Regions from separate parts of the Homo sapiens genome. Here regions 1, 3 and 4 are each reported to be linked to region 2. Evidence: microRNA targets listed by miRTarBase, many of them from high-throughput screens and not tested one by one. Region 2 holds a microRNA gene; each other region holds the end of a gene's coding sequence. Distances are between the middles of the regions.

Region 1 (3,239 bases), not on the chromosome of region 2:
GCATCCTCTACCTGGGCAACAACAAACTCTGCGACCTCCCCAGTGAGCTGAGCCTGCTCCAGAACCTCAGGACCCTGTGGATCGAGGCCAACTGCCTCACCCAGCTGCCGGATGTGGTCTGTGAGCTGAGTCTCCTTAAGACTCTGCATGCCGGCTCCAACGCCCTGCGTTTGCTGCCAGGCCAGCTCCGGCGCCTCCAGGAGCTGAGGACCATCTGGCTCTCGGGCAACCGGCTAACTGACTTTCCCACTGTGCTGCTTCACATGCCCTTCCTGGAGGTGATTGATGTGGACTGGAACAGCATCCGTTACTTCCCCAGCCTGGCGCACCTGTCAAGTCTGAAGCTGGTCATCTATGACCACAATCCTTGCAGGAACGCACCCAAGGTGGCCAAAGGTGTGCGCCGTGTGGGGAGATGGGCAGAGGAGACGCCAGAGCCCGACCCTAGAAAAGCCAGGCGCTATGCGTTGGTCAGAGAGGAAAGCCAGGAGCTACAGGCACCAGTCCCTCTACTTCCTCCTACCAACTCCTGAGGAGCTTCAGTTGCAAGTCAATGCCAAGGACCCAACTGCAGCATGTTCTGGAAGCCTCTCCATTGGAGTGGAAAGGATGGCTCTGGGTCATTTGGGAGTGGCTCTGCTAGTAGAGACTGATGGAGAGAGCCAGGTGGAATGCCATAAATCACACTGAGAAAATATTTCTGGCAAACAGCTCCTCTTCCAGAGGGGAGTTGTGTGCCAATGATGGCATGACAATCCAGAGATCATAACTTCTTTGCAAGAAAACAGCTTCTCCACACATGTATTTTGAAACACTGAAGAGCAAAAGGGGCTGGGACACTCTGAACTCCTGCACTCTCCAGAAGTGACTGGTCATGAAGCTCATGAGCTCCTCAAATAAGGTATTTGCCATAGAACTAAATATTCTGGTGGTCTGTCTCTTTGCAGGACATATTTTCTTTACTGTAAATGACCATAAACAGTATCAATGTATCACTGAGGCCACCGAAAAGGACATTTCTACCTAGGCAATCAGTCAGATTCACAGAAAAAAGTTGTTTGTTGTTGTAAAGGCTCAAGATGAAACTCTTTCCCCAGCAGTTTAGTGCCTGCTGAAAAGATCCCTGATGGACAATACTTCTTGGTGGACTCCAGCTGCCCCTTTTATTATTATTAGAGACAAGGTCTCACTCTGTTGCTAGGCTGGAGTGCAGTGGCACAATCATGGCTCACTGCAGCCCCGAACTACTGGGCTCAAGCCTTCCTCCCGCCTCAGCCTGCCCAGTAACTGGTACTACAGATGTGCACACCTGGCTAAGTCTTTAATTTTTTCGTAGAGATGAGGTCTTGCTATGTTGCCCAAGCTAGTTTCAAACTCCTGGGCTCAAGCGATGCTCCTGCTTCAGCCTCCCAAAGTGCTGGGGTTACAGGCATGAGCCACCACACCCAGCCTTCAGCTGTCACCTTAAACTTGACAGTGGCTCATGCTGATTTAGTTCATTTTCCCTAAAAGGTTTGTCCCAAGATCTGCTCCCAACAGTTGACTGTCACTGACAATGTTGGAAGTCATCTGGAAAAGAGAACCTCTGTGGTAATGTGGTCTCATTAAAGTCAAGCCTTGTTGTGATTCCTGTCTACCTCCCTGAAGCAAAGCCCTTCTGTTTATTCACACTAATGAGCCAGAGCTGAGCTAAATTGAATCCCTGTCCTTGGAGGAAAACCACATTTCCAGAAGCATGTTAGTTTAAAGGTAGTAGGTGAGAAATGTGTTCTCTTGAAACAAGCACTTTGAAATTTGAATAGGAAGTTGTAGTGTATATAGGAAGTCTCTGCCTCTTTCGCCTAGTATCTCTGCCTTTGTTTCAATTTGTTTTGATTTTTACAGACTGTTTTGACAATGTATAAACCAAGGTATTTTGTTTTTTGGAAGTATGTAAATTGTGACCTTCCCACAAATATATAAACTTTAAAGAAATTGTTGTCAGTGGGTAATTTAATAATACAATTCTTTATGTACTTGAACGTTTTCAGCAAACAAGGACACAAAAAGTGTTATCTTAACTAAAACATACAGTACCAAGTTTTTAAAAGGATGTTTTCTGTAAAAGCATCTTAACCCAACAAAGTTTGGTTCTAAAATGACATTACACAGCAGACCTATTTTCATGTATGTCTTCCTACCAGAAATATTTCCTGCTAAACTAGAGGAAGGATGATGTTGCATAATTCCTTCCTATCGTCACCTCCCATCTGCAGAGCATTTGCAACCCATTGATCAGACTGCCAAAAAAGGTCCCTTTAATCATTTAATGTAATAGGTTTAAACTTTCAGGTCAAACATATTTAACTCCTTTAGAAACAAGTCCATATTTCTGTTGGACAGTTAGGATTTATCTCATTCCTAATGACGGAAGCCAAATTATACTCAGCTGATGCTAGAAACTTTTGTCAACAGAACTTGCATTCTAAGCTTAATCTATAGCAAGGTTTATAGATTTCTGACTTTCTTTTGACCCTGTCTTACCCTTCCCAAGATTAATCGGCCATTCTGTAGTTGCAGACTATAACCATAAAACAGAGTGAAGCCAATTGATCCATACAGAACTGTCATCTAAAGAGCTAACTGGTCTGAATCAGTAGTCAAATTATAAACATTTTGGCCCATAATCAAGCTGTTTTCTTCTAAAACAGTCAATACACAAAGAACATTTCTCAAATGGTATGGTCAAGTGTTCGCTGTTGAATTTGCTTTCCAAAAATGTTTTCACTGTAGATTTTCAATCAATTTTTTTTTTTTTTTTTTGAGACAGAATCTTGCCGTGTCGCCCAGGCCGGAGTGCAGTGGCGCTATCTCGGCTCACTGCAAGCTCCGCCTCCCGGGTTCACGCCATTCTCCTGCCTCAGCCTCCCTCAGCCTCCCAAGTAGCTGGGACTACAGGCGCCCGCCACCACGCCCAGCTAATTTTTTGTATTTTTAGTAGAGACAGGGTTTCACTGTGTTAGCCAGGATGGTCTCGTCCTGACCTCGTGATCTGCCCACCTCGGCCTCCCAAAGTGCTGGGATTACAGGTGTGAGCCACCGCAACCGGCCTTCAATCAATTTTATAAAGTATATAAATGCATACTTACATTTCTATAACCCTTCTAATAGTTTCTGGAAATGTTGACACAATTAGAAAGTAAAATAAGAAAATGTTGAAGCACCAAATGTAACTTTTTTGCTCCTGATTTTTAAGTCTT
Region 2 (3,239 bases):
AACACACACACACACACACACACACACACACACACACACACACGCTCACTCATATAGAGTTAGAAAAAGTAGTGGTTACATAAAATTTCTAGGTTAGATATGTGAATGATTATCTTTCCAGAGGTCTCTAAAACCTTAGGACCTTAAACTTAACTGTTCTACCAGGGCATACAATCATAGCATTGAACATGTTCTAGAGTTTAACCTGTAAAAGCATGCCTGCCTTTATCACATCGAGGCTGTTAGTATGTATTATGACAACAAAGTTACATTCCCCAGGAGTGTCAGATATGGGGCAAAGCAAGGTACAAAGTCTGGTTTTTGTTCGAGGAGGCTTGCTGGAAAATGCTTCCCAGCATGATATGAGAAATCAAGCCAACACAATTTTTCTTTTTTCCAAGTTTCATTTTTTTTTTGTTCTTATAGCTACTTGCCTAAACTTATATAGTTGGTGAGTTGCTGAGTGGGCTTTAAACTCATTTGGTTTCTAAGCTCTTTTATAGCTTTCATTGATCTAAGGCACAATGGGAACCTGTAGTAGGGGCATCTCACATAGTCTGTTGGTGGAGGGGAATGGTCAGGGAAGGCTTCCTGGAAGGAGAGGTAATGTTTAAACAGATACTTCTATTAATTAGCTAGGCCTGCCATAGCAAAGTACCACAGACTGGGTGGCTTAAACAGCATGCGTATATTGCCTCCCAGTTCTGGAGACTAGAATTCTGAGATCAAGGTCTCAGCAGGGTTGGTTCCTACTGAGGGCTGTGAGAGAGAATCTGCCCCCGCGCCTCTCACCAACTTCTGCTCACTTGTTTGCTGGCAGTCCTTGGCTTACAGACACATCACCCAGATCTCTGCTTTTATTTTCACATGGCATTCTCCCTGTGTGTGTCTGTCTCCAAATGTTCCCTTTATATAAGAACACCAGACTTATTGGATTAGGGCCCATCCTAATGACTTCATTTTAACTTGATTACCCTCTGTAAAGATCATATTTCCAAATAAGGTCACATTCTGAGGTGCTGGGGGTTAGGATATTAACACGGGAATTTGGGGGAGGCACAGTTCAACCCATAGCAATACCTAAAGGATGAACAGGAATCAGCCTTGTGACGAGAAGAAAGAACATCCTAGGCAGAGGAATGGCATGTGCAAAGGCCATGAAGTAGAAAAAGCACAGCAGGTTTCAATGAAAAGGTCATGATAACGGGAACAAGAGATTTGCCATGAGAGAGGCAAGCTTGGAGGGACAGTCAGAGGTGAGCTTATGAGCAGCCCTATATGTAGGTGACCATGTGGTTTATCATCCAAATCAGGATGCTTTTGAGAGTGAAAGAGGGTGTTGCTGATGAATGCAGGGCACTTTAGCCTAAACTGGGTTTCTCCTAGGCATACTGGGAAGGATACTCACACTCCATATAAGCTAGGCTAATGGACAAATTCTTTATCCTAAAGGCAGTGGGGAGCTACTAAAGGGTTTTAAGCAGGGAAGTGACACAATTATATCTGCATTTAAGAAGATTCCTTTCAGCCAATTATTTCCAATGAAAGTATCTCCAATACTTTCGTACTGTGGAAGGTATATTGGAAGGAAACAAGGCATGAACATCAATTAGGAGGCTGTGGTGGTCCAGGTGAGAGATGACTGTGTCATGGACTAGGGTGGGAGTAGGGATGGAGGGAAGTGAAACTATTTGGGAGGTGTTTAGGAGGTAGCATCATGAGACTTGTAACTGACTAAATATTGGGTGTCGTGCTGAGGAAGAGGGATGGGTCTAGGGTTATATCCAGAGTTGCGTGTGACTTGGGCAACTTAGGGACACTCTGATGCTATTCAGAGAGATACTGAGGGCTTGGGGGCAGGGAATTTAGGGGAGGCAATGGGGGAAGATGAGCTGGGGGACAAACTGAACTGAGAGTGCTTGAGATGAACAAACGGAGATGTCTAGTTGGCAGCTGATATATCAGTTAGGACTTAGGTTCATTTGTGGTCACAGAAACCCAAATCACCAACATGTGTTTCCTTCTGTCACATGCAGTTGTCTGGGCACGAGCAGCTGTGGTTGGTGTGGTGGCTCCTCGGGGTCAGCGTCCAGTCTCCCGCTGTCATGCTGCTCGGCTGTTCCTAGGGTGTTTCTCTCATCTCTGGTCTATAATGGGTTAAATAGTAGAGATGAGGGCAACACCCTAGGAACAGCAGAGGAACCCTAAACCACCGGTGTATTTTGGGAGCCAATGGGGAGGGAAAAGGATGAGGGGAAGGGCACAAACCTTCTGTTGAAATGCAGGGCTTGCATGAAAGAGATCATTGCCTGACCCAGGGACTACCTCAAGGGCTTTTGGTGAGGACAAGTGACAGTAGGAAGATGCAAGAGCCTTTAGTACCAAGGTTCTCAACACTGACTACATGCTGGAATGACTTGTGAAGCTTTTAAAAAATGTTAGTGCCCACTCTTCCCCTCTCCCCTCGGCCAGTTAAATCAGAACCTCAGAGAGCAATGTGCCTTGAGATGCCTTGAACCACTGCTTGAGAAGGAAGGACAAACACATTATTACCTTGGAAGAATTGCATAAGGCTTATGACTTGAAAAAAAATTCTTTTTGGAAACACAAGCATTTCTTTCCTTTTTTTTTTTTTTTTTTTTTTTGAGACACAGTCTCACTCTGTCACCCAAGCTGGAGTGCAGTGGTGCGATCTCGGCTCACTGCAACCTCTGCCTCCCGGGTTCACGCCATTCTCCTGCCTCAGCCTCCCGAGTAGCTGGGACTACAGGCACCCGCCACCACGCCCAGCTAATTTTTTGTATTTTTAGTAGAGACGGGGTTTCACCGTGTTAGCCAGGATGGTCTCAATCTCCTGACCTCATGAGCCGCCCGCCTCAGCCTCCCAAAGTGCTGGGATTACAGGCGTGAGCCACTGCGCCCGGCCTTGGAAACACAAGCATTTCTTTAAGAATGACCAGGTGTTGCCATATGTATTTACGGCGCAAGCAAGTGTTGTCTAAGCAGTTTCTCTGTTTGCTTGTCATAGCAACATTTAGAAACTCGAACATGCTTTCATTTATGTAAATAGTTTATGAAGCTTTGACAACAAATGTAAACAGACCTGAAATTATAAATCTGCTAAATTTGTATTAAGGGTATTAATTATTGAGAGAAAGTCCCCTTCCTCCACACTCAACTCCTATGGCAATTATGAACTCCATTTTACCCAGAACACTTAAGTGCCTCAGCATCTGTAT
Region 3 (3,000 bases), not on the chromosome of region 2:
CAATCAAATGCCAGTGGAAGTACAAACTGAACTTCTAGAAGCAGATTTGGACCACGTGACCCCAGAAATCATGAACCAAGAGGAGAGAGAGTCTAGCCAAGCAGATGCTGCTGAGGCTGCCAGGGAAGATCACGAAGATGCTGAGGATTTAGAGACCAAGCCAACAGTGGATTCTGAAGCAGAAAAGGCAGAGAATGAGGACAGAACAGCTCTGCCAGTTTTAGAATGAAATTACACATGAATATATTTTTAAATTTACTTGTTGGGTTTTTGAACTGATTATGGGCAGTTTGACTGTCCTTAATTAAGCCTAACAGACAAGTGGACCAAAGTTAAGCTGTTTCCTGTTGTGCTGAACTGTTGTCCGTTGAAACACATTGATTCCCCTCCCCCTACTTATTGCCACAGAGGAGGGATCTTTTCCATAACTGAAGGGGAGTTTTGAGAAGTATATTTCTGGAAACTTAAATGGATTATATTCTTATTATATAGTTGGGTACGAATGTATCTATTTTCATTGTGGTAAAAGTTCTTCCTTTTCTCTTTCCCAGGTCATGTTCTTCCTCAAATTTTTTCCATATTGTAAAATCAAACTTAAATCATTAGAATACAAGTTTATGTATTCTAATGCATGTTAGAAAATTGAATAATATAGGAAACACAAGGCTGCATGATGAAAAGTGCATTGTTACTGTGCAGTTAAATTTTGGCTTCTGGCTTTCTTTAGTTTGAACAAACGTTCTTGTCTACCCCAGTAGTCACAGATGCCATCTTTGCAACAGAAAGAGTGGTGGTGGCAAAATTTCTAGAATGTTAAAAAAAAAAAAAAATCCACACCCATGTGCCTTCTCAAAACCAACTGAACTTCTATAAAGCATCTCTGGTTCTTTCAAAGTTTGTGTTGTAAGGAGCAATGTAGATGATGCTATAATACTTTATATTTTTGGTTATAATGACAACCACCAGTTCTTTTTCACTTAAGTTAGGTTGAGAAATTTTATTTAATGGCCACTGAAGGGCCATTTTCAATTGGGAAAATTTATTTACATCTGTGGTAAACTTTATTTTGATGAAAAGTTGCACTAGTATTTTACCACCAGATGAGAAAAAGATGAGCAGCATTTAAAAATTAATGTATTTAAAATAAAGTACAGAGAAAGACATGTATATAATTATCAGGCTTTGTTTTGAATGGAATCTTTTCCCCCAATTCTTAATGTAAAGATCTTGTGCTATAACTTTTAAAGCCATACAAATAAGAGTGCTAAACTGTGGACTTAAAAGTAGGTGTGTAAATATTTTTAATCAGTATTACTTGGAAAATAAAATATAACAAACCCATAGACCAATATGCTATTTTTTTTACCTGTTAAATATTGGGAGTTCTTTACATTTTTTAAGTAAACTTTAAAATTATGTGTTCATGACTCTTTTTTAAAAAATTACCAGCGTGAAAGTTTATATCTGGGCAGAGATAGTTCCTCATGTGTCTTTACCCGTGTTAACATGACTGATGCATGAATTGTGATAAATTTTCCATCACACCTCCAACCCCCCAAAATCAGCTCAAAAGCATGGAAGTAGTTCATATTCTTTATGCTAATAGTTCTTACATGGTAGGCACAATAGCAGGAATTCTCCACTTAACTGTGTCAAATGTAAAAGACCAATGCGATTAGCCCCCTTTGGTAATCGTGACGTTAAATGGTATCACATTTACAAAAATACGCTGAAGAGAGTGGCTTCCCAGCATTGGAGAAGTCAGATTTAGATATAAATCTGGAGATAGAGCCAACCATTGTATTAAGGGGGCCACGTTTTTAAGATCAAAATAAGGGTATGAACACTTCCAAGTGTGTACTGTTTGGTAGTTGGGTATCTACTGCAAAGCTTATTTAACAGTATAGTTTTTATTTGAAATTGGAAAATACCAATAATATAATTAAATTATATCCCAGTGAATTTTCAGTTTGCCTTAGGATGCCAATGTTCCTGAGTTGTTTAAGAAAAAAAACCCTAACAGATAGTGGTCTCAAATATGTAAATTACTAGTTAGTATCTGGTGAATTTTGAATGCTGAAAATAGCGCATACTATGCCCTTAAGCTAAGGTATGAAACAAGGATTTTAAAACAAGAGTTCTGACCACAAGGTAAAGATCAAGGGCAAAGGTACATCAAAGTGTTAAAATTATTTGAGTTTTCACATTTGTCAAGACCTTTCGAGGTAGATTTGAGATGCAGATATAGTTCATTTTTCTTTTCCCAAAAGGTATAGAAGCTATCAGTGTACCCAGAATGCCAGTAAATTTGATTGCAAAAGTAGAGGAAAACTATCTACTGGTGATAAACTGTATGTTGAATAACATTTTGTAGTTGGAAAGCACTTTATGTAGAACATAAAACAGCTGTTAACAACTGATGTATATTTGCTTCAAGTACTGAAGCAAACTGGATATTTAGTCCTCCAGTGTTCTACTGTATTTGTACTGGAGTTTTAAGATAAGTCTACAGTATGAGGTACCAAGTTGGACAGTAGAGTGTGCAATGATGATCACATAGAAATAAGTCCCAAGTGCACTGAGAACGATGAGAGGCTTTTCTATCTCTACTCCGTTTCAACAGCAATTCTCAGACATCAATTGGGTGTCCAACAATTGAATCTGACACCACCCAGATTTAGAGCAAGTTAAGTGCTCAGTACCACAAAATTGCCCCCACTTCAGACACCAGCCACAAATGCGATCAACAGGCTACCCGCGCTTCTGCCCAGCCAACCGTAAATTTAGGGTTCTTATGGCCTTCCCATCCCCCCAAGTTCAATAATGCATTGAAACAACTCAGGAAAGCACTATACTTAACGACTACAGTAAGTATACAATTCAGGAACAGCCAAATGGAAGAGATGCATAGAGTAAGGTGGATGGAGGGGGTTGTGGAGGAGAATAGTAGAGGTTTCTCTGCCCTCACTTGGCATGCCACTTTCCCAGCATGTTGATGTG
Region 4 (3,239 bases), 17 Mb from region 2:
GTGAGCAACCGCACCCCTGCCTAATTTTTGTATTTTTAGTAGAGACAGGGTTTTACCATGTTGGCAAGTCCGGTCTTGAACTCCTGAGCTCAAGTGATCTGCCTACGTCGGCCTCCCAAAGTGCTGGGATTACAGGCGTGAGCCACCGCACCCAGCCACCCCATTGTTAAGTCCAGAGAATTAGGCCCTCCTGCCTAGAGGTTCTGCTGCTAGAGTAGTTTGTCTTTGGCTGCCCAAGTCCTGCCTTGAAACAATGAGAGGGTAACTTGGACCAGGCCTGTCTGGGCCTTGTGTGTTTATGGCCTGGCCACTTGAGTCAGGATCATCTTCACTGCATTTTCTCTTTCATTTCAGCAAATTATGCGCACAGCCATGAAGTATAACCTGGGATTGGACCTGAGAACAGCTGCCTATGTTAATGCCATTGAGAAAGTCTTCAAAGTGTACAATGAAGCTGGTGTGACCTTCACATAGATGGATCATGGCTGACTTCCTCACTATCCTCTTCACATGTAACTTCTGCAGACCTATCACAAGTTTACATGTAACCACAGAAATCCCTTTCTCTCCTGACTCATTAATAATGGATACCATTCTCAACAAGTCAATCCAAGTCAGCCCGTTAAGGAGAAAGAAATTAAGGTTAGCGGATCATGTACAAGCTGAGTGTGAAAGTAGAAATCACCTACACCAGAGAGCCATTTTGGTATTTTGCCTTTAAATAAAAAGCCTCCTTTATCTGGCTGTGCAGCCTTGCTCTGTGGCTTTTCCCAACACAATCAGTGCTAGTGCTGGGGAGGAACAGTCAAGAGCAGTCAGTTGCTTGCTTATTTTTTCTGGATGAGTCTGGGACACACTGTAACTTTAACACATTTAAGAAGTAGGTGTGTGGCCTTTTCAGAAGGTGGCATGGTCCTCAAGTGAGTTCTTAGTATTTTATATCAGCAAAATAATTCAATTTTGCAGGTTGCAAACAAATATAAAACCTGTTTCTGTTTATGAATATTATTCTTTTAGAATAGAATAAGTACATGCTGCTGTAATAAAATTGCCTTTAATCACTTAACAAGCCTAACCTTGACTCAAACAGTGAATGCCTATAGAAATAATAAATGAAAAAAACTAGTATTTTTATATCATAAAACAATGTCATTTATAGCTTATCATTCATGTATTGTCCAGCAGACATTAAAAGCCCTGTGGATAATTAAGTTATCTTCATACCTGCAAAATGGTGGAGGCTATTTTCATTAAAACTGTCAGAATTTGCTTACTATAATTATGATACAGTCCAAAGAATGCAGTCACTTTTTATCATGTTAACTAATTGTTCTCTTTTGAAGATCTATGGTTGACTAATTAAACAATAATTCAAGTAGAGTGTCCCAGAAAAAAACCACTTGGGCTCCCTGTTTGGAGTCTGGCTGGCTCTGAGCATTGCCAATGGCCCCTACTCACCTGACTTTGTATCCTCTCCTTTTAGAGGCTTTGCATTCTGCACCCAGCTTCACTAACAGTGGGCTGAAAACATCCTTGGGTTGAGTGTTTCATTTGGGAGTTATTTGGCCAGGGCCTTTTGAACAGTAGTGTCCCCATGAAGTGCTAGATAATATATGTGTAAGAGTCAGCTTTTTTTTTTTTTTTAACTCTAACACCCTTCAGAAATTTCTAACTACTTTGTAACTGCATGGCTTAACCTGGTGATAAAAGCAGTTATTAAAAGTCTACGTTTTCCAAAACTTACGTTTCTTTTCTGTGTTTTTACATGTGGTAGTTTCTCTTTTCATAAGTTATAATACTGCAATTGGATTTCTGAAATGTTTATAGCGACCACCTGTATAACATTTCCTTCCACTTTATTGTGAGCTGCCCAGATTTTATTCTTGAATTGTTTTTTTTTTTTTTGTTCGGTGCTTTACACGTTCAGAGAAACTTCCCGAGTAACGAACTATAGAAATGATCCCTGAAAGCATAGTCTTTATTCTCGAATTATTTTGTATTTTATTAAATAATATGAACAGCTGTTCTTGAGAAAGAGGCTCTAATGTTGAAAGCTGATAGTGAAGTAACTTTTAGTGCCGTTTTTCACTAAAGGGGATTTAATGTGGAATAATTTAGCCACAGAATGTAACAACTATTGAAGAGAGAATACTAACTGTAATCAGAACTGGATTCTAGACTTGATTCCACCAGTTACTTAACTGCCAGTGTGAAGCCTGGCTTTCATTTGGTCTTTGTCCGTATGTCACAGTTCTGCCTCTGCATGCTCCTGGCATAGGGTCAGTCAGATAAACAGGCCCCCAGTATATGGGCATAGTGAGCCCTTCCCCAGCATGGTGGTGTCTATCTGCACTCTAGGTGGGCTACTAAAATGTGTAAGGGGGAAAGTGATACAAAAACCAGTTCCAGAATGTTAGAATAATGGTGGGGCAGCAGATTTAAGTCATGTGAATGTGGGATAAGTCTTAGTGGTGGCCTTTGACTATATATTGGAAATACTGATTTTTTTTTGGTTGGGGGGTTGGTTTTTGTTTTTTGAGACAGTGTCTTGCTCTGTCACCCAGGCTGGAGTGCGGTGGTGCAATCACGGCTCACTGCATCCTCTACCTCCTGGGATCAAGCAGTTACTCTACCTCAGCCTCCTGAGTAGCTAGGACCACATGTATGGGTACGACACCTGGCTAATTGTTTTTATTTTTTTGTAGACACGAGGTCTCCCTATGTTGCCCAGGCTGGTCTCACACTCCTGGACTCAAGTGATCCTTCCACCTTGGCCTCCCAAAGTACTAGGATTACAGGCATGAGCCACCATGCCTGGCCAATGGTAATTTTTTAAAGATTAATGTTGAGGAGTATTGTTGATAGTAATATTAGAAAACTAAATTGCCTGTGCTAGCTATATAAAGATGAGAGCACTAGTGTCAGTAATTTTGGCTCCTGAAGGTTTTAGTTTTTAAAAATCTGGTCAATTACTCTTTTTACCTTGACAGAAATTTTCTTTTTTTTTTTTTTTTTTTTTTTTTTTTGAGACGGAGTCTCGCTCTGTCCCCAAGGCTGGAGTGCAGTAGCGTGATCTCGGCTCACTGTAACCCCCCGCCCCCTGGGTTCAAGCAATTCTGCTGCCTTAGCCTTCCTAGCAGCTGGGACTACAGATGCGTGCCAGCACGCCCAGCTAATTTTCTCGTATTTTGATTAGAGATGGAGTTTCACCATATTGGCCAGGCTGGTCTCAAACTCCT

Evidence for each region. Region 2 holds the annotated microRNA hsa-miR-609 (AGGGUGUUUCUCUCAUCUCU, at 2,125-2,144, shown strand). A microRNA usually pairs through its seed, bases 2 to 8, with sites in the 3' UTR of a target mRNA and lowers its output. Matches are read on the target gene's strand: a 7mer-m8 pairs with bases 2 to 8, a 7mer-A1 pairs with bases 2 to 7 and ends in A, and an 8mer does both.
Region 1: the mRNA of LRRC10 is a reported target of hsa-miR-609. Seed matches in the 3' UTR shown: 7mer-A1 at 1,442-1,448.
Region 3: miRTarBase lists ZNF131 as a target of hsa-miR-609. Seed matches in the 3' UTR shown: 7mer-A1 at 834-840.
Region 4: the mRNA of GLUD1 is a reported target of hsa-miR-609. Seed matches in the 3' UTR shown: 7mer-m8 at 1,651-1,657.

Annotation. Positions count from the first base shown.
Region 1 is chr12:69,607,299-69,610,537 of GRCh38, reverse strand. LRRC10 (leucine rich repeat containing 10) reads left to right here. Exons shown (of 1, transcript NM_201550.4): 1 at 1-1,974. The coding sequence ends at 533. Among named protein-coding and RNA genes, the nearest start is that of LRRC10, 2.0 kb to the left of the region's middle.
Region 2 is chr10:104,217,754-104,220,992 of GRCh38, reverse strand. MIR609 (microRNA 609) reads left to right here and starts at 2,110; the gene lies at 2,110-2,204. All of the region lies in intron 3 of CFAP43 (cilia and flagella associated protein 43), which reads left to right.
Region 3 is chr5:43,174,905-43,177,904 of GRCh38, forward strand. ZNF131 (zinc finger protein 131) reads left to right here. Exons shown (of 7, transcript NM_001330707.2): 7 at 1-1,418. The coding sequence ends at 229. Among named protein-coding and RNA genes, the nearest start is that of NIM1K, 16 kb to the right of the region's middle.
Region 4 is chr10:87,048,986-87,052,224 of GRCh38, reverse strand. GLUD1 (glutamate dehydrogenase 1) reads left to right here. Exons shown (of 13, transcript NM_005271.5): 13 at 355-2,023. The coding sequence ends at 474. Among named protein-coding and RNA genes, the nearest start is that of FAM25A, 30 kb to the right of the region's middle.